Linked DNA regions of Homo sapiens. The gene in region 1 interacts genetically with each later gene. Each region holds a gene or a part of one and is shown in the gene's direction. Other genes may lie near its edges. The genes, in order: EXOSC2, BNIP1 and RINT1.

Region 1 (3,651 bases):
GGTAGAGCCAACAGGTTTTGCTACTGGACTTGTCCTGGAGCGTGAGAGAGAGAGAGGAATCAAGGAACTCTCCGAGGTTTTTGGCCTGAGCAACTGAGGGGATGGAGTCACCGTTGACTGAGATGGGGACAACTCATCCCCTATCTCGGTTTGCTATGGAGGACTGGAGGGGGCTGCGGGAAAGCTTAGTTTTGTGCTTGATACATTTGAAAATGCCTGTTAGTCATCTAGATGGCAGAGTTGGGTAGCTAGCAGTTGAGTAGGATTTGGAATTCAGGAGAGTGGCACAGTCACAGCACAGAGTGGTGTTTTAAAGGTATTAGATTGAGTGGCCGAAAAGTGAAGAGGTCTAAGGACTTAGCCTCAGCACTGAGTACGTCTCATTAGAATCGCGGGTAAGGAACTAGCAAAGGGGCTTGAGAGGAGCAGGCAGTGAGTAAGTGGAGGAGACGTGAGCAGACTTGTGTGGTTGGAGTCCTGGCTCAGATTTCCTTTCTCTTCCTTTGGCTGGTGCAGAACTCATCCATGTGCCACAGGAAAATAGTCCGTGTTTTTCATTGTCGTGTAATCGAACAAAATAGGGTTTTTGGGCTAAATGAACTACTTGGAATGGTGATATGTCTAAGGATAGTTAATGGAGACTTTATACGTGGAGGAATGTTTGAAGTTAGCAGTTTCTGAAAGTAAGTCCAGACAATATAGTTACATGAATTTGCTGAATGTGGCGCCTGTTCCAGGCTTTCACCCTGTTGAACCGACATCTCAAATGGTGTGTGGTCTTGTCAGAAAGTCTGCTCACAGATGGATGAACCCCTTGTGTTTTGTCTTTCAGATACATTGGTGAAGTAGGAGACATCGTAGTGGGACGAATCACAGAGGTAACGTCGATATCAGATTGGTGTTTACAAAGTCGAGGCAGGCTGGCGATTTCATTCATGGGACAGTCATTCCACTTGTAGTTACATGAAAAAGGCATTCATTGCATTTGGCCGTTGTGTGGCTTCTGATGTAAATATGTGGCTTGTTCGATTTCAGATTACTGGTTCATGTTTTTTTTTTTTTGAGATGGAGTCTCGCTCTGTCGCCCAGGCTGGAGTGCAGTGGCATGATCTTGGCTCACTGCAACCTCCACCTCCCAGGTTCAAGCGATTCTCCTGCCTCAGCCTCCCAAGTAGCTGGGATTACAGGCACCCGCCACCACGCCCAGCTAATTTTTGTATTTTTAGTAGAGATGGGGTTTCATTATATTGGTCAGGCTGGTCTCAAACTCCTGACCTCAAGTGATCCACCAGCTTCGGCCTCCCAAAGTGCTGGGATTACAGGCGTGAGCCACCACATCTGGCCTTACTGGTTATTTATGATATGACACATGAACATGGAGCATGTGTCCAGGTGTGGAACTTGGCTTATAGGTTCAACAGAAGAGGTGGAAGGTGGAGACCAACTCCAGGCTGGATTCGGTCTTGCTGCTCTCGTCCATGAACCTTCCTGGAGGAGAGCTGGTAAGGGCTACAGCTGGGGCCATGGACTAGGGCCCAGTGGGCTGGGGGGAGCCGTGGGACCCTTTGTTCCACCAGAGGACTTTGATTTACACTGAGGTTGCCCCTTTGACTCCTGTTTGTCTGCTGTGAAGTTTGCTGCCTAGATGTGTATGTAGACTTTTCACCCTGTCCAGGTCTCCCGAAAGAGGGAGCAGTTGGCATATGGTAGGATCAGAAACATCCATGGGGTGGGATCCCAACAGAGAGTTGGGGAGAGAAGCCCTTAGATGCTGGTTGTTAACAGTTTTCCTTTTTGGATATAACAGCCTTGCATAGTGAAGATGTTCCTTGAAAAGTTGTCTTTACATTAGGTTTTTGTGAATTGAAAGGCATTTCATTCAACCATGTGTGGAATGTGGTTGCTGGCATTCCAGACAACCACAGTAACTAAGCCACAGCCTTTTGTAAAATGCCATGGTTCACCTTGATCTTCAGTCCAGCGTGTATTTACAGAGAGGCTTACTGTGCCAAGCTCTGTGCCGAGTGCCAAGCACGATTGAGTTCCCCAGCAGGGGATATAAGATAACTGACCTAGTCCCTGGCAGTAGAAGAATAAATAAGCTGTGGTTATACAAAAGGAAATTTCAGTGAGAGAAGCTTGTAGGAAAGACAGGCATTGGAGTTGATCCTGGAAGGATGGAGAGACTTTGAATGACTAGTTCAGGGAATCTGAGATAAAGGGAAATGTATGAGCAGAGATATATCCAAGCAGGAGTTAGTCTGGTCCTGCTGGACCACAGAGGGCTGTCATGGAAGATGACTATGGAAATGTTGGCTAGGTGAGATTGGGAGGGGTCTGAATGTTCCTCAGAGAAGGGAGGGAAAGAGGAAGAGGAGCTGTGGAAAAGTCTTTTGAGATGGAAAGTCGTGATTATCACTGATTCCCCTCAAGTGGCTTGGGTTACCTACTCTTGCTATAGTTCTCAGTGCTTGAATATTGTGGTTGGCCTCAAACATCTCAAAAGGAAGTGAAAGAGAAGTGATGGAGACCTTTCTGAGGATCTGGCTTAAGTAATGTCATTTCTTTGTGTATTTCAGAGGAGAAGATCTGCAGAAGATGAGCTTGCAATGAGAGGTTTCTTACAGGAAGGGGACCTTATCAGTGTATCCTGCGCTTTGCACTCCAGCCTCTTGATGCTTTTCTGTGGGACTGGGAAATGGGCCTTCCATTGTATGTCTCTGACGGAAGAACCATGTCATCCTTGCAGGGATCCGAGTCTTAGACCAAGTGTCGGGCTCTGCTGCATCCTTTCTCAGTCTCCTTAATTCAGGCTGACTCCCCAGCTCTTGTTGGGACCTGCTGCTAAGTCATTTCTTTGGGTCTTGTAACTTACGGTGGCCTGTGCTTTAGACTAGGCTTTTGTTAATGGTGTTAACTTTTAGCGCAGGGAGTGGAGAAGGTGTTGTTCACGTCAAGATATTAATGACAGGCCGAGTGTGGTGACTCATGCCTGTAATCCCAGCGCTTTGGAAGGCCAAGGAGGGAGGACTGCTTGAGCCTAAGAGTTCAAGACCAGCCTGGGCAACATAGCAAGACCCCCCTCTCTACAAAAAAATTAAAAAAGAATTAGCCGGGCGTGGTGGCACATGCCTGTAGTCCTAGCTACTCAGGAGGCTGGGGCCAGAGGGTTGCTTGAGCCCAGGAGCTCAAGGCTACAGTAAGCTATGATCACACCACTGCATTCCAGCTTGGGTGACAGAACAAGACTCTGTCTCTATTTTATGTTATTTTTTAAATTTTTCTTTTTTTTTAATGACGGAGTCTTGCTCTGTTGCCCAGACTGGAGTGCAGTGGCGCGATCTCGGCTCACTGCAACGTCCGCCTCTTGGATTCAAGCAATTCTGCCTTAGCCTCCCAAATAGCTAGGATTACCGGCGTGCGTCATGCCTGGCTAATTTTTGTATTTTTAGTAGAGACAGGTTTCACCATATTGGCCAGGCTGGTCTCAAACTCCTGACCTCAGGTGATCTGCCCACCTCGGCCTCCCAAAGTGCTGGGATTACGGGCATGAGCCACCATGCCTGGCCTCTGTCTTTATTTTATTTATTTATTTATTTATTTATTTATTTATTTATTTATTTTTTTGAGACGGAGTTTCACTCTTGTTGC
Region 2 (3,508 bases), on another chromosome or scaffold:
CTTCTGGGGTGTTGAGAGGGTCCCGGTGTTCTTGGGGCCCATTTTGTACAAGCGATAACTATTGAAGAAAAGAGAAGAATACAGTTCTTAACCCTTTCCTTATGCCTCACAAATTCAGCTTGATTTAAAAGCCTACTAGGACCATAATTTTAAAACAAAAAGCTTATTAGGAATATGGTGTCTGGAATTTGCTCCACAATTGCAGGAGTAGTTGCAGTTGGGGGGAGGGGGAGCAGGATTTCAGAGGTTGGTGGTTCTTGGTTATGGGTGGTGGACACATGGCATTTCATGATATTATGCTGTCTGCTCTGTGATGGTTCAAAATTCTCCGTAATAATAAAGTTTAAAAAGAAAGGCCTATTAGATTTTTACTTAGCAAGATCTCAGGGTTTTGAAATCGCAGCAGGCAGGCGTGGAGAAAGCAGGCGGAGAGGGATTCCTGTTCTGTGAGTGTTTGTTTTTCTCCTTTTATCTGTCATTTTCAAAACGCTGCTGTGTTTCCTCTGATAATTTATCCTATTTACTTATTAGCTTTTAATTTTTAAAAAGGTAACACATACAGCATAGAGAAGGATAAGAAAACTCTAGCCCAGGACTGCCATAGAAACGCAACAGCAGCCACGTATGTAACTTTAAATTTTCCAGTAGGCACATGTTAAAAAGTAAAAAGAAACATAAGAAATTAATTTTAGTAAGATGTTTATTTAACCCATTATGTAAAATATTATAATTTCAATGTAAAACTAATATTAAAAACTATTGAGATATTTTACATTCCTTTTTCTTAGATTAAGTCTTTGAAACATCGTGTGGATTTTGGCCAGGCGCGGTGGCTCATGCCGGTAATCCCAGCACTTTGGGAGGCCAAGGCGGGCAGATCACTTGAGGTCAGGAGTTCGAGACCAGCCTGACCAACATGTTGAAACCCTGTCTCTACTAAAAATACAAAAAGAAAATTAGCTGGGCGTGGTGGTGCATGCCTGTAGTCCCAGCTACTGGGGAGGCTGAGGCAGGAGAATCATTTGAACCTGGGAGGTGGAGGTTGTGATGAGCCAAGATCACGCCACTGCACTCCAGCCTGGGTGACAGAGTGAGACTGCATCTCAAAAAAAAAAAGAAAAGAAACATTGTGTGGGTTTGACACTTACATCTCCTGACATCTCCATTTGCATTAGCCACGTTTTTCTATGCACAGCAGCCTCGCATGTCTAGGGGCTGCCATATTGGTCAGCACAGCTCTGGAGAGTACAAAAGGGACACAAAAAAGATCACTCTCTGTTCTGACCTCCAGCTGACCCCTACCTGCCAGCCCTCTGGTCCACTTCCCAGAGGCAACCTCTGTAACCAGTGTCTTAAAAAATATCTTGTGATCCTCCAAGCTTTTGTAACTTAAGCAAATGAAATACCATTTATCTCCCTGTTTCTTACCTAAATGGAAACATTTCACAGGCGTTCCTTTATACTTTCCCTTTTCACTTAATGTGTTCTATTCAATGGCTGTTCTGATGATGCCTTGCTATGTTTTGTGGGAGAACCTCGCCAGGTACACCTTCTACCCTCAGCGTCAGGCCCAGATACCCATATTCAGAAATACATCTGACTCTGGGGACAGTGATTCCTTAAGGGACGTGGGCCTCTTCTTAGGTGTCACCTCCTTAAAGCTACAGCCAGTATCCCTGGCCTGAGGGACTGGTATGTGTGAGGGCTTACGGCAGAGCCCGGGACACCCTTGCCCTTTTGAGATCCTGCAAAGTGCCGGTCTGGCCAGCAGATGTCCTGGAGGCCGCACCTCATAGGTGGAAGGTTCTGGTGCATTTGGCTGCTGCCCCAACACAGACCTCACAGTGCCTGCCCACGATCCCTGGGTTGATTTTGTGGCTGGTGGTTTCCCTGAGCAGCGTCCATCTGCTTCAGAGAGCTGAGGAGGTGGCTGGGTGAGCAAGCCTCTTCTGCCCTTCTCCCTGGTGACGCTCATGTTCAAGGACTCCCAGACAAACCCCCCCTCACTCTCTGGAGCTGATGGGACCTGGGGAGGAGCCTTTCCTTGTCAGCTCCTTGGCTGGTCTCCACATGCTTTGATTCCAGCTCAGAGGAACTCACTTGAGAATGCTGGTTTTTATCAGCACCCCAGCCAGCAGAGTGAGGTCTTTGGATCTTGAGCTGCAGTCTCTGAGTTGGGCCTCCTTCCTCTTTTGTTTCAGTCACTTCTTCACGAACGATCCTGGATGCAAATGAAGAATTTAAGTCCATGTCGGGCACCATCCAGCTGGGCCGGAAGCTTATCACAAAATACAATCGCCGGGAGCTGACGGACAAGCTTCTCATCTTCCTTGCGCTAGCCCTGTTTCTTGCTACGGTCCTCTATATTGTGAAAAAGCGGCTCTTTCCATTTTTGTGAGATCCCAAAGGTGCCAGTTCTGGCCCTTTCAGCTCCTGTTTCAGGATCTGTCCTGGTTCCTGAGCTCTAGGCTGCTAAGCTGAGCCACACACCCCTCCGTTTGCACCAGTTGCCTGCAGGTTGGATGGAACACAGTGCCCCACTTTTCTGCAAGTAGCTGGCTTGTAAAGGGTGAACAGAGCCATGGGAGGAAGGTCTGGCATTGGGATGCCGCCCTGGGGACATACGAACCGCCTCCTTCCACCATTGTGCACTATGGGAGGCCGCTGCTGCGTGGAGCACTTAAAGTCCAGCCTCCAGGACCGGATGCCCCTCCTGTCTCCCGCTCCCATCGTGCCCTTAAATGCCAGATCTGGTGGAGGGAAGAGAGAAGAGGTAGGAAGAAAGGTGATGAAAACTCCTGGTCATTCCTTGAATAAACTTGATTTTATTTAATAGAATAAAATGTATTTGATTTTGTAAGATAGCCCTCTGGGAATGTGTGTTCCTCTTTTCTTTTTTCTTTTTTTTTGAGATGGAGACTTGCTCTATCATCCAGGCAGGAGTGCAATGGCGCAATCTTGGCTCACTGCAGCCTCTGCCTCCTGGGTTCAAAAGATTCTCTTGCCTCAGCCTCCCAAGTAGCTAGGATTACAGGCACACACCACCATACCCAGCTAATTTTTGTATTTTTTTAGTAGAGATGGGGTTTCTCCATGTTGGCCAGGCTGCTGTCGAACACCTGACCTCAGGTGATCCACCCATCTTGGCCTCCCAAAGTGCTGGGATTACAGGTGTGAGCCACCATGCCCAGCCCTCTTTTCTTGATGTCCAGATTTTTAGGACATGAACCTAGATTATTTATTTATTCATTCATTCAACAACGAATTAGCATTGTTATTTTCTTTCTGTCCCCACCCAACAACAAGGAACTATTAAACAGCTGCCACACACAGGGTGTTATAGACGCTGCTGAACATGACAAATACATTGGTGAACCAGACATGGTTCCTCCCTCAAGGAGGAACAGAAGGAGACACGGAAATAAAATCTCACAGACTATCAGGAAGGAGGGTCCAACAGCCCCTGTTCAACCAGGTGTGGTGGCTGATACCTCTAATCCCAGCATTT
Region 3 (3,651 bases), on another chromosome or scaffold:
ATCCCTGGCCCTCTTCACCTTCGTCAACCACTAGCCTGTCCGTTTCTTAGGCTTGTCTGGTAACCTGAAGAAGTATCATTCCAGCCCAGTCAGTAAATAATTCCTTTTTTTTTTTTTTTTTTTTTTTTTGAGATGGAGTCTCACTCTGTCACCCAGGCTGGAGTGCAGTGGCATGATCTCGGCTCACTGCAACCTCTGCTGCCCAGGATCAAGCAATTCTTTTGCCTCCGCCTCCCAAGTAGCTGGGATTATAGGCACCTGCTGCCACGCCCAGCTAATTTTTGAATTTTTAGTAGAGACGGGGTTTCACCATCTTAGCCAGGCTGGTCTTGAACTCCTGACCTTGTGATCCACCTGCCTCGGCCTCCCAAAGTGCTGGGATTACAGGCATGAGCCACCGTGCCCAGTCATCATTCCATATTTTTAACTATAAGAAAAATATGAAAAATACTAAGACAAAAAAATTAAGGAAAATTCATGTCTCTTAAAAACTTTTTATTCAGAAAATTTTCAAACATACACAAAAGTAGGATAATATGATGAACTCTCAGGTACCTATTGCCAAAGTTTAAAGCAATTATCACTTTTCTGTTATATTTTACTCCTCAATTTTTTTTTTCTGGAGTATTTCAAAGAAAATTTCAGACATCTCATCATGTCAATTGTAAATTCTTTTTTTTGAGACAGAATTTCGCTCTTGTCACCCAGGCTGGAGTGCAATGGCGCAATCTCGGCTTACTGCAACCTCCGCCTCCTGGGTCCAAGCAATTCTCCTACCTCAGCCTCCTGAGTAGCTGGGATTACAGATGCCTGCCACCATGCCTGGTTAATTTTTTTTTGTATTTTTACTAAAAATACAAAAATTTACAGGCAGTTGGCCAGGCACGGTGGCTCACACCTGTAATCCCAGCACTTTGGGAGGCTGAGGTGGGCAGGTCACGAGGTCAGGAGATCGAGACCATCCTGGCTAACACAGTGAAACCCCGTCTCTACTAAAAATACAAAAAAATTAGCCAGGCATGGTGGCGGCTCTACTAGAGATGGGGTTTCATATTGCCCAGACTGGTCTCGAACTCCTGACCTCAGGTGATCCACCTGCCTCGGCCTCCCAAAGTGCTGGGATTACAGGCGTGAGCCACCATGCCTGCCTGTAAATTGTCTTTTTTTTTTTTCTTTGAGACAGAGTCTCGCTCTGTCGCCCAGGCTGGAGTGCTGTGGCGCAATCTCGGCTCACTGCAAGCTCCACCTCCTGGGTTCACACCATTCTCCTACCTCAGCCTCCTGAGTAGCTGGAACTACAGGCACCCGTCACCATACCCAGCTAATTTTTTTTTTTTTTTTTTTTTTTTTTTTTGAGATGGAGTCTCACTCTGTCGCCCAGGCTGGAGTGCAGTGGCGCCATCTCAGCTCACCGCAAGCTCTGCCTCCCGGGTTCACGCCATTCTCCTGCCTCAGCCTCCCGAGTAGCTGGGACTACAGGCACCCGCCACCACACTCGGCTAATTTTTTGTATTTTTAGTAGAGATGGGGTTTCACCGTGTTAGCCAGGATGGTATTGATCTTCTGACCTCGTGATCCACCCGCCTCAGCCTCCCAAAGTGCTGGGATTACAGGCGTGAGCCACTGTGCCCGGCGAATTTTTTTGTATTTCTAGTAGAGACAGGGTTTCACTGTGTTAGCCAGGATGGTCTTGATCTCCTGACCTCGTGATCCACCCACCTCGGCCTCCCAAAGTGCTGAGATTACAGGTGTGAGCCACCGTGCCCGGCCAACTGCCTGTAAATTCTTAAATGTGTATCTTTTAATTTATTGAAGTTCTTTCTTTTTTAAAAAAATGCTGTTTATTTGTGTTGAAGAAACTGTCATTTTTTTTTCTTTCTTTTTTTTTTTTTGTTAGATGGAGTCTCACTCTGTTGCCTAGGCTGGAAAGCAGTGGTGCCATGTTGGCTCACTGCAACCTCCACCTCCCGGGTTCAAGCAATTCTCCTGCCTCAGACTCCCAAGTAGCTGGGATTACAGGCACACGCCACTACTGCCCGGCTAATTTTTGTAGTTTTGGTAGAGATGAGGTGTCACCATGTTGGCCAGGCTAGTCTTGAACTCCTGACCTCAGTTGATCCACCTGCCTTGGCCTCACAAAGTGCTGGGATTACAGGCGTGAGCCACCACGACTGGCCAAAACTGTCATTTTTATGTATAATTTTTTCATTTGCCTTTTTGAAAACTTGAGGTATAGTTTACATACAGTGTAATGTGCAGATCTTATTTGTATTGTTCAATGAGTTTTGGCAAATGTATATACTTTTGAAACTCACATCCTTAAGAGAGCTCAGAAATAAATCCATTCTTGACTACTGGTCAATTGATTTTTGACAAAAGCACTGAAGCAGGACAGTAGGGAAAACTTATAACTATATCATAGATGGTACCAAAACCTTCATATGTCTTAATAACTTTTTCCACAGACAGGTATAAAAATCTTCCCACAGCTTCCCGAAAGCTTCAGTTCCTGGAGTTACAGAAGGACTTAGTAGATGATTTTAGGATACGATTAACACAAGTGATGAAAGAAGAGACTAGAGCTTCCCTTGGCTTTCGATACTGTGCAATTCTTAATGCTGTGAACTACATCTCAACAGTACTAGCAGATTGGGCTGACAATGTTGTGAGTTAATATGCTTTTATATTAAGTAATATATACTAGTTCGAACTATTTTATTAATACTTTTCAAAATGTTGAATCTATTGCAAGCAAAAATAAACATGCTAGACAGAACCATAGTGCCATAATTAAAAGGTGTAATTAAAATACACATTTTTCTCAATCAAATCTCAAGTAGTTAAATAGTCCTGATATTTTAATGTATTTAATCATTGGAAAGGCAAGCAAGCCTTTCATGAAATAGTTGTTTATAGAGTGAACCATACTTGGAAATATTCATGTATGGTAATTGCAATCACAGGAAGAGCTAAGATTAAATAATGATGTCAAAAGCAATCCAGGACTTTAAGGAAAATAAAAGAATAATGTTTAATACCTCTTGAATGTCTTCAAAACATGACAGATTATAAAGAGTCATGAAAATAGGAAGAAACATTTAAAGTTTTAATTGTTTCATACATTAAAAATCTATTTGGCTGGGTGCAGTGGCTCATGCTCTTAATCCCAGCACTTTAGGAGGCTGAGATGGGAGAATTGCTTGAGCCCAGGAGTTGGAGACCAACCTGGGCAACATAGGGAGACCCCATTTCTCCAAAGAATAAAAAATAAAATAAAATTAGCCAGGTGTGGTGGCATATGCCTGTAGTCCGAGCTACTTGGGAGGCTGAGGTGGGAGGATCACTGGAGCCCAGAAATTCATGACCAGCTGTGCAACATAGTGAGACCCTGTCTCTACAAAAAATAAAAATAAGAAACTAACATTTCATGTATCAAATTTTCAAATATATGCAAGAGTAAATAGAATAGGAAAATGAACTTCTGTGGCGTGGCTATCACTCAACTTCTTTTTTTTTTTTTTGTGACAGAGTTTCGCTCTTGTTGCCCGGGCTGGAGTGCAATGGTGCGATCTCGGCTCACTGCAACCTCTGTCTCCTGGGTTCAAGGGATTATCCTGCCTCAGCCTCCTGAGTAGCTGGGATTACAGGCAC

Evidence for each region.
Region 2: changes in EXOSC2 (region 1) and BNIP1 together harm fitness more than expected from each alone (negative genetic interaction), as found in Homo sapiens cells (one large-scale study listed by BioGRID).
Region 3: changes in EXOSC2 (region 1) and RINT1 together harm fitness more than expected from each alone (negative genetic interaction), as found in Homo sapiens cells (one large-scale study listed by BioGRID).

Annotation. Positions count from the first base shown.
Region 1 is NC_000009.12:130,696,750-130,700,400, forward strand, and holds part of EXOSC2 (exosome complex component RRP4), read left to right. Parts: intron 1-832; coding exon 833-878; intron 879-1,412; coding exon 1,413-1,502; intron 1,503-2,579; coding exon 2,580-2,645; intron 2,646-3,651. UniProt on the Homo sapiens protein: Non-catalytic component of the RNA exosome complex which has 3'->5' exoribonuclease activity and participates in a multitude of cellular RNA processing and degradation events.
Region 2 is NC_000005.10:173,161,524-173,165,031, forward strand, and holds the end of BNIP1 (vesicle transport protein SEC20), read left to right. Parts: intron 1-549; coding exon of another isoform or gene 550-622; intron 623-788; coding exon of another isoform or gene 789-801; exon of another isoform or gene 802-837; intron 838-2,201; coding exon 2,202-2,398; 3' UTR 2,399-2,864; downstream 2,865-3,508. UniProt on the Homo sapiens protein: As part of a SNARE complex may be involved in endoplasmic reticulum membranes fusion and be required for the maintenance of endoplasmic reticulum organization. Also plays a role in apoptosis.
Region 3 is NC_000007.14:105,552,563-105,556,213, forward strand, and holds part of RINT1 (RAD50-interacting protein 1), read left to right. Parts: intron 1-2,465; coding exon 2,466-2,665; intron 2,666-3,651. UniProt on the Homo sapiens protein: Involved in regulation of membrane traffic between the Golgi and the endoplasmic reticulum (ER); the function is proposed to depend on its association in the NRZ complex which is believed to play a role in SNARE assembly at the ER.